2 separate regions of the Homo sapiens genome follow, and region 2 is linked to region 1. The links come from fine-mapping of genetic effects on gene expression. Tissue or cell type: whole blood. Region 1 holds a variant in brackets; the other region holds the start of a gene. All regions are shown on one strand. Distances are between the middles of the regions.

Region 1 (8,179 bases):
ACTTAAGTGGACAGCAGGAGTGGGTGGAGAGAGGGAGGGAGAGTTTGCCCTGCAGGCTCTCTGGATGCAGAAGCCAGACTCGCTGCAGAGGCAGCTGTGCTGTTCCCGGAGCCTGGCTTCAGGGGTGCATCCGTCACTCAGGGTTCATTCACCCAGGCAGGCTCCAAGTTCCTGGGGTGCACAAGGTGGGCACTGTCCCTTCTGGGTGCTGACAGCAGAGCCTGGCTCCCCTCCGCCACCATGAGCGGCTGCTCCAAAAGATGCAAGCTTGGGTTCGTGAAATTTGCCCAGACCATCTTTAAGCTCATCACTGGGACCCTCAGCAAAGGTATGGAAACTGGCCTTGACCCTTGCTTTCTGTCTTGATATGGCCTGGCTGGTCGCATTGCCTCGGTGTGGTGAGCGTGACCATTCTGGTGCACCCAGGTCTTGGAAAAAGCTGGGGAAATTGGTGGCTGGGATTCGAGGTTGCTGACAACCTGCGTCCTGGCTTTGAGTAGGCGGGCACCCAGCCAGGGAACTCAGCTGGCTGTAATTGCCTGGAACTTTGGAAATGGAGTTGGTGGTGTGTGGCTGATACGTTATGGGCGGGCAGAGGGATAGAACCCTTTCCAGAGCATTGGAAGTGGCTTAGCGTGACTGGAGTTTCAAGAAGTTATCCATGGAAGGTTGTATTTTGTTGATAAAAGAGAGATTTGATGCAGTGGGTTGTGAGTAATTCTGCAGAACAGAGACGCTTGAGGGGGCCAGTGGGAGGTGGTGATGGGCCGGCATCTGCTTTGCCCTGGTGGCTTCAGAAACCGGATCAGCTCTGCACCTCAAGTGCCAAGAGCCTCCTCTCATAGGGTTCCAGCGTCTCGTGCTTCTGGGGCTTCATTCATCGTTCTGCTTTCTTGGATCCCTGTCCCTCCACATTTCATGCCTATGTCCATGCCTGTCTTTTCTGCTTCTCCAGGAACTGGGGTGGCAGGTGGTTTGCAGGAGTAACTGTCTGGGCAGATCAGAAAGTGTGGCTATGGACCAGAATTAGGGCTGCAGCCCCAGATGGGCCCACAGCCGGGAGGCAGAAAGAAGGCTAACTCCTCAGGGCCCAGTCCTGTGTCTTAAACCCCATTTTACACTTGGCACCAGGGAAGGTGAGGCCCTCAGAGGGGTCTGGCCAACTTTGTGGAGATGATGTCAAGGGAGAGCAGCAGCATGATGTGGTTCCACTGGCTGAAAAAACGTCTTTAAATATTCATGCTGTCTTTCAGGAAGAGTCTTTGGGGGCTGGGGAGAGAGGCACTGGAAGCAGCAGGCAGAATATTCAGGGAAGGAGCCCACAAAACTTTGATGGGATTTTACAAAATGACAATGAGAGCAGAGAAAGGCTATATGCAGCCAGATCTCATGACATGGCTCAGGTGCCCGCCACCCAGCGGGTCTGGCCCAGTGTACGTTGTGTGGCATGTGTGGGTGGTGGGAATGATGGGATTCTGTTTATCTCCTTCCTTGGGATGTTCTGACCTTCCTGTTATTTCCCTACCATCCTTCTGAAGTGGGGCACTGCTCTTCCAAGATACCCAGGTGGGCTGAGCCCCCAATGTGGAGGGCCAGGCTGCCTGGCAGAATTCCTGGAGGCCAGAAGTGGGGTAAACAGGAGGTTAATGGGTATAGCTGTGATTGCTCTCAGTGGCTTTACCTCCTGGAGAAGGAGAAAGCAAAGGGGTTAGGAAATTTCACAAAGTCTCCCCATTCAATCCTCAGAGACAGCTGGAAGGTTTTCTTTCCTCATTACAGATAGCAGGACCTAAGAGGGTAATGGGTGTGGGGCAGCAACCCATTGCAGCCTCTCATGGAGGGCTTGTCCCCACCTGCAGTCTAGTGGCGACCCAGACCCCACACACAGATGCTCCCTGGATGCCACACTGAGTGCTGAGATGGGGGAATCATGGGGGTCAACAGGCATAGAGAAGAGATGTCTGGGGCAGACTAAGGAGTGCCTCCAAACAGTGACATCTAAGCTGAGATGAGGAGAGGCAGGGCTGAGAAGGTGGGAGGAAGCCGAAGCTGCCAGAGGGAGCAACATCAGAGTGTTGGCCTCTGCAAGGAACCAGCTGGAGAGTCAGAATGCCTCCCTCTCTCTGCTCAGAATCCCAGAAACTAAGATCCATGTGACACAGAAGGGACTCCGTGGGGACCTGGCCTTCCTGTGAACTGCTTCAGTACAGCCTTTCCTGTGGCCAGGGCTCAGAGAGGCAGCCCATGGCAGGCACCAGGGCAGGATTGTGTCTTAACCGCATCTGTCTTCTTTGCTTCAGCTCCGCAGAGAGGACCAAGTGTTTACACAGCCCCGGCTCTGCGCCAGGCACGTGCTAGGTGACTGGTGTTCTACCCGATCCAGGTGTTTGCTAAATATTTGTTAAATAGTGAGGAACATGGGAGCAGGGCCAGGCTGGGAGCAGGGTAGCTGAGAAAGGCCTGCAGAGAGTCCAGAAAACGGCTTTCTAATGTTTACACCTCCCCTAGGTGGATTTAGATTCAACCCTACATGGATACATTATGATTGCTTAATGATTTCTGATTTTAATTTGATTTCACTTATTCATTATTCATTGCACTGAGTTCTAGATTTGCAGTAATCCAACCCTCAGGAGAGGGATTTTTCTTTGTCCCTTGCAGAACTGAGGAATGTAAAGAATGTGTTGGACCAGGTACCTGCTTGTTCTATGGCAATTTACTGTTTCTTACCAGCCTTGCAAATACCTGGGGGACAAGGAGGGTCCAGGATCACCCTCCCTGTCCTGCCTGTTCCTAACCCTTGGCCACCTCCTGCCATGCCAGAAATCCTTCTTGCCATTTGTCTAAGATGCCAGCTAGCCCAGATTTCTCATCAGCGCTTATTGCAGAGATAAACTGCTCATGTCCACCTGCTCACATATCTCATCAACCTTGAACTTTCCTTCCTATCCCTGATCATAATTTGTGGTCTGCATTCCCTTTAGGAACATGTTTGCTAAAGGCTCTCTTCCCCACTAGACTTCAGCTCCATCATGGCAAGACCATGTGCATTTTTTTGCTCACCACTGTGGCCAGAGCTACTAGCATGGGGCCCAGAATGGAGTATGTGTGTTACCGTGTTAAACGAATGCAACGGCACCGCACGGCACAGACACCAGCCGTCAGCCTGAGATGACCCCTGGTACAGGAGCTTTCTAGGAAGCACTATGCAACACCTGTCCCACAGGTGCTCAGCAAATGCTCTCTGAAGTCTGTTTAGCTGCAGCAAGCTGAGTCTGCAGCCTCCAGCCTCCAGCCTGCGTGAGCCTCCAGCCACGTAAAACATTCAGGCTGGGTCTGAGCTTGCATAGTGTCTAGGGAAGGGCATTAAGATTGTTCCCAGAAGGAAAGGCTGGGTGGGCAGGCTTCTGGCATCCCCACTCCCACCCCTCTGGCTCTATTTTTATTTGTTTTATTTACTGGATTTCTCCCACATTTAAAGAATCTCTTTGGCATTAAAAAAAAAAAAAATTTCAAACCACGAATGCAGTGAGGAGCACAGTTGGTTTCTAGACTGAGACATCCCCGGACCCTGCACTGTGGCTCGGAAGCCTCGGACTGGGTCCCTCACCTCCCTGGCATTTAGTTTCCTCATCTATAAAATGGAATTACAATACCCTTCTTATGGGGTTGAATGAGATTGTGCAGATAAAGCTCCCTGCCTATTAGGTGCTCAGTAGTGTTGATGGATATGACTTCTGTTATTAGCGGATACTCTCATGGTTGAGAGCCCCTCCGGGCTGGGACTCCCTCTCACTCATTACTTGTTTTCTCAGCACCAGGCACAGATTCTAAGAGCAACATCTCATGATCACTTTATGAAAGCCTATGGCCTTGTCAGTTACTGCATGACTTTATTTATTTATTTATTTTGAGGCAGGGTCTCATTCTGTTCCCCAGGCTGAGTGCAGTGATGCAATCACGGCTCACTGCAGCCTCGACTTTCTGGGCTCAAGCAATCCTCCCACCTCAGCCTCCTAAATAGCTGAGACCACACATGTGCACCACCACAACCAGCTAATTTTGACTGTTTATAGAGACAGGGTCTCACTATGTTGCCCAGGTTGATGTCAAACTCCTGGCTCAAGAGACCCTCCTGCCTTGGGCTCCCAAAGTGCTGGGATTACAGGCATGAGCCACCACGTCCAGCCACTGGATGACTTTAGACCACTGCTTCCCCTCTGCTCAACTTGTTTTCTTAAGGGCCTACCCAGAGCCATCTCCCTCACCTGATTCCTTATTAGGAGTTAAAAGCCTGACTCCCAGAGCCAGGTCCTCGCCTGCTGTTTAACCTAGGAGAAGCCCAGCTCCTGGCTCGGATGCTTGGTGAAATCAGGGGTCTGGGGAACCTGCGTCTTCCTCTTTCTGCACAGTCAGCTCCCC[T/A]CCACCCGCCTCACAGACTTCCTGGGGGCCGCTGGCAGGAACCAGAAGTTGTGCAGGCTCCATTCTGGCTGGGGAGGTTTAAACTCATCTCCTTCTGCACTGGGAACAAATGTTACCCCAGGCACAGATGACAGAGCCAAAGTGAGCAGAAGGGAGGAATCCAATCCAGGAGAGCTTCTAGTGTCCTCCAGGCCACCCATGAGGCTGCGGGGGTGGGGAAAAGGGGTGTGGGAAGATGAGATCTATCTCAAGGACAAGGCCCTGGAGCCGTAACTCTCCCCTCCCGCCCAGGCCCAGGCTGTTCCTCTTTTTTCGAGGCAAAACCTCAGCTGCCCCATCAGTGACACACTGTTCCTCTTGCCTCCTCCCACTGCTGTTCAAGATCCTCAAGAGACTGACCTTGGACCCGGGCATGGACTCTGCCTTCAAGCAGGCCAGGCTGGAGTACCAACTCTGCCTCTTACCAGCTGTGTGAAGTTGTGTCATTTGAACACCACCCCAAGCCAAGGCTCCCCACTTTTAATTGGAGATAATAATAATATCAATGGCACAAGGCTGTTTTTTAATGTAATGATGATATGAGTAAGAGATATCAGCTCACAGGCAAATCCCAACTCTGCTCTTGCAGGGCACCCGCCCCCGCTTACATTTTGTGCCCTAGGCACCTTCCTTGCCTCTTTCTAGTCTTGATCCTGGAGGTAGGGATTGCAATCACCATTTCAGCAGGTAAGGAAACTGGGGTTTAGCTAAGTGTCGTGGCTCCCCTGGTGAGTGGCAGAGCTGGGATTAGAACCCAGGTCTTGCTGCAGCCAAGACAAGGTACATTCCTCTGCACTCCTAGGGCTGGAGAAGTCACGCCTGCCTGCACTACTCCCCACCTTGCCACCAGCAGAGAGTCCCCCAGCGTCCCACTAATTCTGTTGGTGGGTTTTTCCCTGCTGGGTCTGATCAGAGCAGCCACCTGTCATGCAAAGGGTTGTGACAAATTCCATAAAGTGTCATCACCTGGGTTATGGGGAAAGGGAACACTCCAGAGGCCAAGATCAGCAGGACAGCCATACCCATGCTCTCTCAGTATCCCTATCACCTCTCAGGCAGGTGTGCAGGCCCAAAGCACCTGCCAGACACTGAGTAGGCTCTGTCCCATGAGGGCCACTCCCCCATGGCTCTCCCTTCTTACAGGCCAAGTGTGAGAAGTGTTCTTGGGTGTGGGAAAATACACACAAAGTTTTGGACACTAGGCAGGCTGGAATTGAGGTGTTGCAGCTGTTTACTGGAATTGTCTGGGAAAGCAGAAGCCTTCACACTGGGGACTTTGAGACCTGTGAGATATCATCATCCCTCTACCAAGAGGAGAATGCCACCTGTCCCATGAAAAGCTAAGCTTCAATGCTGCCCCTTGCTGGGGAAAGAGAGTCCCCACCATCCGAGTCCTGGCTCGCTCACTGTCCTGGCAGTGAGGGGCTGAGCAAGCACTCTGGTCATGTTACAACAGCCCCACTCACTCTCTGCAACCCTGGAACCTCTGAGTGCCAGTGCTTTGTCACAGGAAGAAAGTTTGATTATCCAGGGCTTCTGGGTCCCTGCCTACCTCTCCAGCCCCAAGCTAGAGCCTGCCAGGAGGGGCATGTGTTCACCTTGGCCCTCCTGATGTCCAGTAGCCTTCATCCCAGCCTACTGGCCTCACCACCCTTGCCCCTCTGCAGCAGGCCCAGCATTCCCTGACCCATTTGGGTTGTTCAGGTGCTCAGCTCACTAGGGTCTCCATAGTCCCACAGTAGAAGGCAGAGAAGAAGGAGGGATCACCTGCCCCTCTGGAGCCTCCGGGTCTTTCTCCTAGATAACCCTGTTACCATGCAGGAGTAATTTGTTCAGGGCCATTTATCCTGGCACTGCTGCACAGACATCCTATTAACTTCAGGACCACAGGGGAGCGGCTAGTTTGCTCCAAATTAAAAGTAGCTGGAAACGGGGCCCTCTGGCAGGCAGGAGAGTTCAGGCTGCCACACCACAGCCCTGGGAGAAGTGGATCTAGTCAGGTCTTCATCAGCCTTCTAAGTCCAGGGCCTCCTTTGCCATGCCACAGGGACCCTCATCTTCCCCAGTCTTCTTAGGGTTACAGAATCTCCCCTGGGCCATCTCTCTCAGCAGACCCAGGTCCCAAATCCCTGAAAGCCTTTGCTTCCCAAGGGTGGAAGTGGCGATGTGAAGTCACTGTGGAAGGAAGCAGGATGCAGGGCGGGAAAACTCTGGACCCAGAGGGACCTGGGCTCCAACCCTGCCATGCACCAACAGGACAGCCTTGGGCAAGCCATTCCCCATCTTGAGTCTGTGTCCTTCCGTAAATGGGCCAGTAATTTCCATCTCATGTGGCTACTGGAGATGGAATGAGATGGGACATGTGACAGGCACAGGACCTGGCTCATACAAGCTGCTCAGTAAAAGTCAAGTTCCCCACCCTTCTTTTCTATGATACGACCTTGGATTTGTAGCCAAGAGAAACAAGGCTGAGCCTCTGTGGGTCAAGTCCTCTTCCCAGCTCCTATCCAGATGTGCTGCTATTTCAAAATTATCCCCCCTGCCCCCAGTCACTCTTGATGACAAGTTCTATAATTAAAAATGTGCCAACAATGGAAATGATCCTTTTTATTTAGTTGTTCATGGGAGAATTGGTCATCCATTCTCATGAGAATGGGAGCCCTGTGAAAGCGTTCACCACGTTCACCACGTGGGAATCACCTAGAGTGAGTGCCTCAAGCACCTGCAGCCGAGGAAGGAAGGTTGAATAAATAACGACTAAATGCTTTCCCTGCCGAGCAACATCAGGCCATGTGGCTGGAGTTCCCTTTTTGAGGTCTGGTCTTAGTCAGGCTTGCTCTGGAGCCTACCACTCCCTATCTCCCTTGTCTGAATTCCTGTGCTGGAGTTTGACAGCAGTGACCAGCCAGAACGACCTGGATGAGACAAGGGTCAGTGCAAACAAGACCAAAGGCCTGTTCCTGCCCCCATTCCGCTCTCATGCTCTGCTGGGGGACTGCCCCTGGGTGCAGGCCCACACTGCCTATGCATCACAGCTGGCCAGGTGCTCAGGTGAGGCGGCGGTTCTTCCCCGTTGTCCACCTGCACCCCACCCAGAAGTGCAGGAGGAGGGACCCCACTGAAAGGCAGGCAGCAGGGGAGAGGAGCTTTGGGGGAGAGGATGTGGAAATGAGGAAATTGCATAGGCCTCCCGGGCCAGCTGGAGGAAAGAAAGGCCAGGACTCCTGAAAAAGACTCATGGGAAGTCATTTACTATCACCACTGACCACGCTCTCTGTCACAGGTCTTCAGTCTAGGGGCAGAAGAAAGCCTTCCTTCTCTGTTAGGATGAGGGGAGGAGGACCATGAACACAAAGCTAACCTTGGTCCCCTCTGGCTGAAGCCACTGAGATTCCATTTTGTGTTCTTAGAAGAACACCCGCTTTGGAGCCAGACCTGGGTTTGAGTCCAAATCCTCACAACTGCTTGCTGTCTTAGGCCATCAGGCTGCTTATCAACCTGATGGCCTAAGCTACCATACAAAGACACGGTGGCTTATCAACAACAGAAATGTATTTCTCACAGTTCTGGAAGCTGGAAGTCTGAGATCAGGATGCTAGCACTGTGGACTTCTCGTGGGGACTCTTCCTGGCTTACAGACAGCATCTCCTGCTGTATTCTGACGTGGAGGAAAGAGAGTAAGCTAGCTCTCTGGCCTCTTCTTATAGACACACCCCAT
Region 2 (8,179 bases), 31 kb after region 1:
TTCCAAATAGAACACGAATTAGGAATTCACAGCTTTTCCTTAAAATCTCAAGTGGTTGATATGTCATGGAGCAAGGGCATGGACCATTCTCTGAGATTCCTGAGCAGAACTTCAGGGAAGCAGATGCTGGCTCAATGCAGACACATCAGAAAACCTCAAACATGAAATGTATGTTCAGTGAGGCAAGGAGCTCCCCGTCTCTTGAGGTATTCATCAGGAGGCTGGATGCCCACCTGACAGGGAGGCTTCAGAGGGGAGAGAATTATGCAGCTGAGCTGTAAACATCTGCAATTCTCTGATTCCTCCTGGGATCAAACTTGCACTGGAACCTTTGCTCTGATTCTTTGCTATTTCTTCTGAGAAGGGCATCATGTGTCTGTTACCACCACGTCCTAGATCATGTGTCTGTTACCACCAGGTCCTAGAATCTCAGACCAGTGGGGCTCAGTTCATCCTACCTTCCCTGCACTTGAACCCTAGAACCTAAGAATGAGCATCGTCTTGACCCTGCTGCCTTGAATGAGGGTCAAGGAGAGGGGTGAGTAGAAGGCCAGGGTTCCTTACAGATGCCAGACCCTTAGGAGAGGGTTGGGGGGTGGGCAGGCCGGGAGAGCTCAGTACCTTTTCTGGTAGAGGGGCAGCACAGTCGTGACCAGGATGTAGTAGGTGATGACGGCACACACCACCATGGTTACACCCAGGCAAAGGGCTCGTGTCTCTCCCCGCTTCTGGGCCATCACCAGCTTCTTCACCATATTCACTGGGGGCAGTGATCATTTCTAGGTCCACAGAAGCAAACAGAAGTGAGATCAGCCCAGTTCACAGGTGATCCACAGAAAGAGAGGACAGGTGAGAGGGGAAGGTACTCAACTATTAATATCACTCTTGTTTATATTTGGAGCTTTGCAACTTCCAGAAGTCTTGCTTTTTGGACCCCATGTAAGCCTTCCCTGTGCAATTGAGAGGCAATTGCAGATAAAAGACCTACGGCTCAGAGAGGTAAAGTGACTTGCCCTAGGTCACACAGTATGTAATAGGCTCAGTAATGGCCCCCCAAGATGTCTATGTTCTAGTCTCTGGAAGCTATCAATGTTACTTTATGTGGCAATGACTTTGCAGAAATGATTAAGATAAAGGCTCTTGAAGGCCAGGTGCGGTGGCTCATGCCTGAAATCCCAGCACTTTCGGAGACCGAGGTGGGCGGATCATGAGGTCAGGAGATCAAGACCATCCTGGCTAACATGGTGAAACCCCATCTCTACTAAAAAAAAAAAATACAAAAAATTAGCCGGGTGTGGTCGTGGGAGCCAGTAGTCCCAGCTACAGGGGAGGCTGAGGCAGGAGAATGGCATGAACCCAGGAGGCGGAGCTTGCAGTGAGCAGAGATGCGCCACTGCACTCCAGCCTGGGCAACAAAGCAAGACTCCGTCAAAAAAAAAAACAAAAAACAAAAAAAGATAAAGGCTCTTGAAATGGGGAGACAATATTGGATTATCCATGTAGCTCCTAAATGTAATCCCAAGGGTCCTAATAAGAGGGAAGTGAAGGGAGATTAAACAGATGAGAAAGCTAAGGTGATATGACCAGGGAGACAGCAATTAGAGTGATGTGACCACAGGCCAAGGAGTGCGTCAGAAGCTGGCGGGGGCAAGGAACAATGGCTCATCCCCCACGGCCACTGCAGGGAGTGCAGCCTGCAGACACCTTGGTGATTTTGGACTTCTGGTGAAATTTCTGTCGTTTGAGGCCGTCAGGTTTATGATCATTTGCTACAACAGTCATAGGTCCCATGCGGTGAGCGAGCAGTACATGTGCATCATCCATGCACCTCCTTCCACGGCACTTATCTCACAGGGATACTTGGAGTATTTCTGCCCAGAAACAGTTCTGTGGCAGGGCTAGCTGGGCCGGGCACAGGCAGGGAAAGGAGAGGAGGGCCCCAGAAGGCAGCTGCAGGTTGTCAGGAGAGGCAGGAGGTTTACCATATTCCGGTGTTTTTTTTTTTTGTAAGGAACATTCCCCTACTTCAAGCAAAGAAAGAAGAAAGAAGGCATCATGGTGGCCTCAGCGACTGCTTTCTTATTTCAGGGCTTGAAGCCACCTGGGACAAAGCAGAATGGGCACATTCTGCTGGTGGTTGCTTTCCTTCTCTCCTCTTTCTTTAGGCAGCAACTCCTTGTTTTTCCCCTGGACATTGACTCCACCCCAATGCAAGCAAAGATTCCACCCTCCCCTGCTAGGCTCCTGATCGCTCCCCCAGGAGTGTGAGTCTTGACAAAGACTTCAAGAAACAGCCCCTCAATCTATGCCGCCTGGAGCCACAGAGATGCCCAGCCATGGTCCCCGCGTGATTTCCCATGGTTCCGCAAGCTGTCCTAGAGCCTCTGGTAAATTTATTTGCTGTTGTTTTTATTTGTTTAAAGTAACCAGAGTCCATTTCTACCAAAAATACCAGGAAGCTATCAATGTAATCCTCCATTTTAGGGGAAATTTTAGGGGAATTTAGGGGAAATTTTAGCCAGATATCAGGGGGACTTTATTCTCCTTGCCAGGTCCCTAAAGTAATAAACATATTATGGTTTTTGTTTGTTTAATTAGCCAGTGTCCGGGTGACAGGCCTTAGTCCAAAGAGATTTTCTGCAAAGTGCTCTATTTTCTGCTCAGGCGTCTCTTAACTACTAGACTGTTTCAAATATTCAGAGATTCTTGACTCCCTCCCCTTAGCCAGGCTGCCCTCATACCCGGGCATCTCCGCTAAAGGGAAGAGACCAGGGTCAGGCACCACGGATACCCATCACACCTTCCCAGTGAGCTGGTCCACCTCCCCTATCGATCGGCAGAGGTGACATCCAATGACAACTTTTTCTCCTTTATTTGGCACCAGGAGGTGAGTTTCTCCTGCATTCTAATGGAGACATTATAAAAGCACAAGCAAGCAGAAATTGCCCCCGACAAAGAGAGATGTTTTATTCAACTCTTTTTATTCAATCCTTTTCCTCCTGTTCTGTGATCTTGTGGGAATGGGAGAGCCCATGCCTTTTTCTACCTGGCGTCAGTTGAACAAGACTCTCCATGTATTCACAGGTAAAGCAACAGAATCACCTGGAGGTAAGCTAAAAGCCCCAACAGCCTGCTTCCCCAGGACCTGCAAGGGTCACTGGCACTTGGCCCCACCCCAGATACTGTGAGACATAAATCATTTGAAGCCAATGGGAAATCCCATCTTGGAAGCCTAGGGCTGAGTGCCCACAACAAAGCCATTTCTCTCCTGGGGGAACTGGATCGCACCTGTGGGGGCTTCCTGTGGCTCCTTCCTGGCTAATCAGCCCCCCCCAGCGCCCAGGGCCATGGCCTCCTCTGCTATTTGGCTTCTAGTGCCCTCTCAGGCCCCTGGGCACTCCTGAGGCTGGTGAAGGCAGGAACCTGGTTTTACCAGTTTTAGGAGCTCAGAAGGAAAGGAAAGGAGAGGCTTCCCTGTCACAGAGAAGTCTGGAAACTTGGCTTATTCAGGTCTGACCCGTCTCTAATGGTCTGATGAGATTGTTGCCTGCACTGAGTGAGTTTATAGAGTCATGATAAATCCTCCTAAGACCATGCGTGGGGTTCAGTGTAGATATGACTTCAGCAAGAAGTTAGTATTCAGCATCCAAAGGGAGAACCTTTGGCGGGAGGAAGGATGGGAACTGTCAATATCCCCCAAGGGACAGAAAGAAAAGGAAGAAGTGGGTTTCAGCTATCATAGGAGGGATTTCAGTTAGACTGTAAGAAGAACTTCCCAGTTTTGAGCATTTCTAAATATCTCTGAAGTTCCAGGATATATCTTCCCATTTAGAAAGGTCACTTGAGATCTGGGATAGATTCAGAGAAGATGGAGAAGGACAAAGGAAGGCAGGACTTTGGAGTGTCCTGGGTGACCTGATAGCTGGGTCGACATCCTTTTCCTTAGAAGGACAAGGAATAGAGTACATTGTTGAACAGTTTGGTGGGGTGTGGACAGGGCGATTCTGAGGTCCTCAGACATGGAATCAAATCCTGGCTCTGCCACTTACACTTAGCAACCACATGACTGTGAAACGAGAACCATGGTACCTGCCTCAGAGAGTTCAGCTAAAGATCAAATGCCATATTGAGTATCAGACATGTATCATAGCACCTAGCCCCAAATCAGCCCCCAGTAAATATTAGCTATTACTACTAACGAAGGAAACCCTGAAAGTTTGGAGCAGAAGTCTGGACCCCTCTTGATGAATCTATTTTTGTCCCACCTCTCTACCGGTGACAAGTGCCAGCATTGGTGTTAATCTCCAGGCTGCAGCCTTCTGGCCACTCTGAGAACTGGGACCTAGAGGGCCAGGGCGCTTACTACCAGAGTAACCTGGCCACTGTGCCACCCTCCCCACTGGCCACCAGACCACGGGCCCTCCATCCAGAAGGACAGCCCCGAGAGGAAGGGAGTCCTCCTGCCTGCCTCCCTCCCTGCCCCGTGGCAGGCTGCTTTCCCCTGTCTCCCTCCAGCCCGGTCTTCAGAGAAATCACTTCCCAAGTGCTTTCAGGCCCGGTACTCACAGTCTTCCCGGCGTCCTGTGGGTCTTGAGCAGCAGACAGTTTCTTTCTGCCTGGACCCCCGCCCCCACCCCAAAAGAGGCCACAGAGCTTCAGCAGGAAGTTTGGCCTCCCCGCCCGTCTCCAGGGAAGCAGCTTTTGGTCCCCATCTGGGGCAAGCCTCCATGCCCAAACATGGTCAAGTCTGAGCACACAGCCTGGAGACACAGACTCGGAGAGCAGGTACCCAGCCCTGAGGAAGGCAGCTGTTACCCAAGCCCTGCACCTCCATCTTCCCAGAGTCTCGTGGGAAACAGATTTCAAACAACAACAGACAGCAAGACTGAGAAACTACGAAAGATCAGCCTGGTATATTTGGAAATATTTCTTCTTCTCTCTGTCTCTGTGGGCTGGCAAAGATGCCAGAAATAGGAAATGATTCTCCTTTTGTTGGCATGAGGAAGGGTGGAGTTGGGCTGGAGGGGTTGGGCTTGTCACTAGTCCCTGGCATATCCACGCTGGAGCAGCTACAGCTCCCTGCCTTTGGCACTTACGTGCTGTGTGACCCTGAGCAAGTTATGGCACCTCTCTGGGCCTCAGTTTCCTTTTTTGTTTTTGGTTTTACTCCCAAACTTATCGTTAAATGACCTCAGTTTTCTCACTTGTGTTACTGGCATTTTTAAAACCTACTTTGCTTTAGGGTAGTGATGGGAGTTAGAGACGGTGGGGATTTATGGCAAGGGGAGAGAACTGACTTTTTAAGGACCAACTGAGCTGAAGCTGGGAGTAGTGAGAGCTCCACAACTGCTTCCAACCAGGTCCAGGGACAGTCTGCTCACCAGGGGCCCTCCCAGAGACCGCGAAAGTACAGAGATTTCTTCCTAGCAATAAGACAAGTGAATGTCAGCATTTGCAGGCAAAAAACATGCTTTTAGATCTCTGCTTCTTCATCTGTAAAGTGGAAGTAAGGATTAAAAATCAGCAACAAAGGGCAGGCACAGTGGCCCACGCCCATAATCCCAGCACTTTGGGATGCCAAGGTAGATGGATTGCTCAAGCCCAGGAGTTTGAGACCATCCTGGGCAACATGGCGAAACCCCATCTCTACTAAAAATACAAAAATTAGTCGGGCATAGTGGTGCATGCCTGTGGTCCCAGCTACTTGGGAGGCTGAGGCAGGAGAATCGCTTGAACCTGGGAGGCGGAGGTTGCAGTGAGTCAAGATTGTGCCACTGCACTCTAGCCTGAACAGAGCGAGACCCCGTCTCAAAAAAAAAAAACAAATATATATATATATATATATATTTTCAACAAAACAACAAAAACAATCCCAGATATTGGGGCTTTCCTAAGTATCAGGCGTGGTGGTAGAAGGCAGCTTATCTCCACCCTTCACTTGACCCAAGAATCAAAGAACCTGAAACTGAGACTTGGAGGCTTGAAGTCACTGGTGCAACCCTAGGGGCCAGAACTAGATTCGAAGCTGGCCCTTCCAGATGGCACAGCTTGGTCTGTCTCTGATGACCCTGGGGCTGCTCTGAGACATTAAAAATCACCTCGATCATACAGTAAGCTGCCACCTGAGGCTCTGGAGGTCACCCTGAGTTTCCCCAGCCCCCAGGGAGGTGGGTGCAGCCTGGCCTTCCCTGCTGAGCGAGCTCACCACCTTCCTCCCTCCTGCCTCCAGCAGGCGCGAAATGAAGGCAGCCACTCAGGCCTCCCTGACACACTCTCAGGCGGTGAGTGCCCTTCTCCACCCCTTTCCTAATTGAATCTTATTAACAGGAGACTACAGTGTCTGTTTAATGGGCACCATAGCACCAGAGGGTCTAAGACCAGCTTCAGACCTTGCAGGCAGATTGACAGAGGGATGTAGGATCTGGAATTCAATCTCAGAAGAGCAATTTTCCAAGGATGATCCTCTGTCCACTCAGAAGCAGGAAAAGTCCTCCTGGGGCTAATCCAGAAATGCCAGGCCCCCCTCCTGCTTCCCTGGGGGAGAGATACACAGTGCAACAGGCTGCCATTTATGAGTATAACCGAAGGGCTCCTTGCTCGTGATACTCTGAATAAGTTATTAAGGGCTACATATTATTTGGAAATCATAAACAAACTTTAGCATTCTTCCCAAGGGAAGGTGGGAACAAACAGGGAAGGGGGGCCGTGGGGTCTTCTGCTCCCCCTAAATGAGCCACAACCAAAAGGCATTGACAAGCCCTGTCCTCGAGGGTTTGTGGGTGAAAACCCAGGTCCTTTGCTGGCTGCGGGGTTGTGTGTGACAGATGGCTACAGGTGGAGGGCAAGAAAATAACAATGCTGCAACAATAAATATTGACGGTTTGCATTAGTACGGGGTGTCAGAGATCACAAAATATCTTCTCTGACTCTTCCAACAGCTTCTTAAGGTACTAGCACAATAGGCTCACAATAGACCACTGAGGTGGAGATTTTTCTACCCATTTGATAGAGGGAGTAACTGAGCCTCAGAGAGGTGAAATAAATTGCCCAAGCAAGTTACTTTGCCTCTCTAAGCTTCAGTTTGTCTGTCTCTAAAATAGAGATAATTATACCTAGCCCCTCAGTGTTTTTGAGGAATGAGAGATCACCTAAGCTACCTGACACATAGTATGGAGATTGTCCTTTCCAAAGATGGTCACACCAAATACTTCCCATTCCATGTGCCCTTTTCACAGTGTGGCATCAACACTCCACCATCAAGAGGGGCATTGATGTCTCTTCCCCTTCACCCTGGGTGGAGCTTCGTAAGGGCCTCAATAGTAGAATATGGTAGAAGGACACAGCACGATGTTCAAGGCTAAGTCATAGACGGGGGCTCGAGTTCCCCCCACACGCTCTCGGGACATGTACCTGGGAACCAGCCACCATGTTGTAGGAAGCCGAGGCCCCGTGCTCCAGCTGACAGCCTCAGCTCAGATCTCAGCCAACAGCTAGCAAATCTCACCGGGCATGGGAGAGAACAAGCCTGCAGACAGTTCCAGCCCCCAGCCTGCCAGCCTCCCAGCTGAGGCCTCAGAGAATGTGGAGCAGAGACAGCCCACCTGCTCTGTGCTCTCTCTGAATTCCAGAGCCACAAAATCCACGAGAAGAAAAAAACTAATGTTTCATGCCCCTGCGTTTTGGGGTAATTTGTTATGCAGTCATAGTAACTGGAACACACTTGCAAGTGATTTCAAAGGGGGACTGTTACAGTTGCTGGTGATAGTGGTAGGATTAAACCAGTGAGAATTAAAACACCTGAGATTGCTATATGGAGTGTTACAGGAGAGTTTAGAAATGCTTTATCTAGGTAGGGCATGGTGGCTCATGCCTGTAATCCTAGCACTTTTCGAGACCAAGGCAGGCGGTTCATTTGAGGCCAGTAGTTCGAGACCAGCCTGGCCAACATGGCGAAACCCCGTTTCTACTAAAAATACAAAAATTAGCTGGGCACGATGGCAGGTGCCTATAATCCCAGCTATTCTGGGAAGCCGAGGCATGAAAATCACTTGAATCCAGGAGGCGGAGGTCGCAGTGAGCTGAGATTGAGCCACTGTACTCCAGCCTGGGCGACAGAGTGAGACTCCATCTAAACCAAAACAAACAAACAAAAAAAGTGCTTTATCTACTCTTAGGTCAC

The links. PIP is the estimated chance that this variant, and not a neighbour inherited with it, causes the effect.
Region 2: KCNMB1 starts here. The variant in region 1 is fine-mapped to the expression of KCNMB1 in whole blood (TOPMed, PIP above 0.99). The same link has a PIP of 0.9 or more in blood mononuclear cells.

Annotation. Positions count from the first base shown.
Region 1 is chr5:170,353,637-170,361,815 of GRCh38, forward strand. It overlaps a transcript of KCNIP1 not described here. Among named protein-coding and RNA genes, the nearest start is that of LINC01366, 26 kb to the left of the region's middle. RefSeq lists an enhancer at 7,467-7,967. The variant T/A (reference allele first, on the strand shown) is at 4,423.
Region 2 is chr5:170,384,693-170,392,871 of GRCh38, forward strand. KCNMB1 (potassium calcium-activated channel subfamily M regulatory beta subunit 1) reads right to left here and starts at 4,675. Exons shown (of 4, transcript NM_004137.4): 1 at 4,567-4,675; 2 at 622-779. The coding sequence starts at 755. KCNIP1-OT1 (KCNIP1 overlapping transcript 1) reads left to right here and starts at 4,801. Exons shown (of 3, transcript NR_109899.1): 1 at 4,801-4,911. It also overlaps a transcript of KCNIP1 not described here. RefSeq lists enhancers at 2,790-3,290, 3,291-3,791, 5,716-6,216, 6,217-6,717, 6,970-7,470 and 1 more.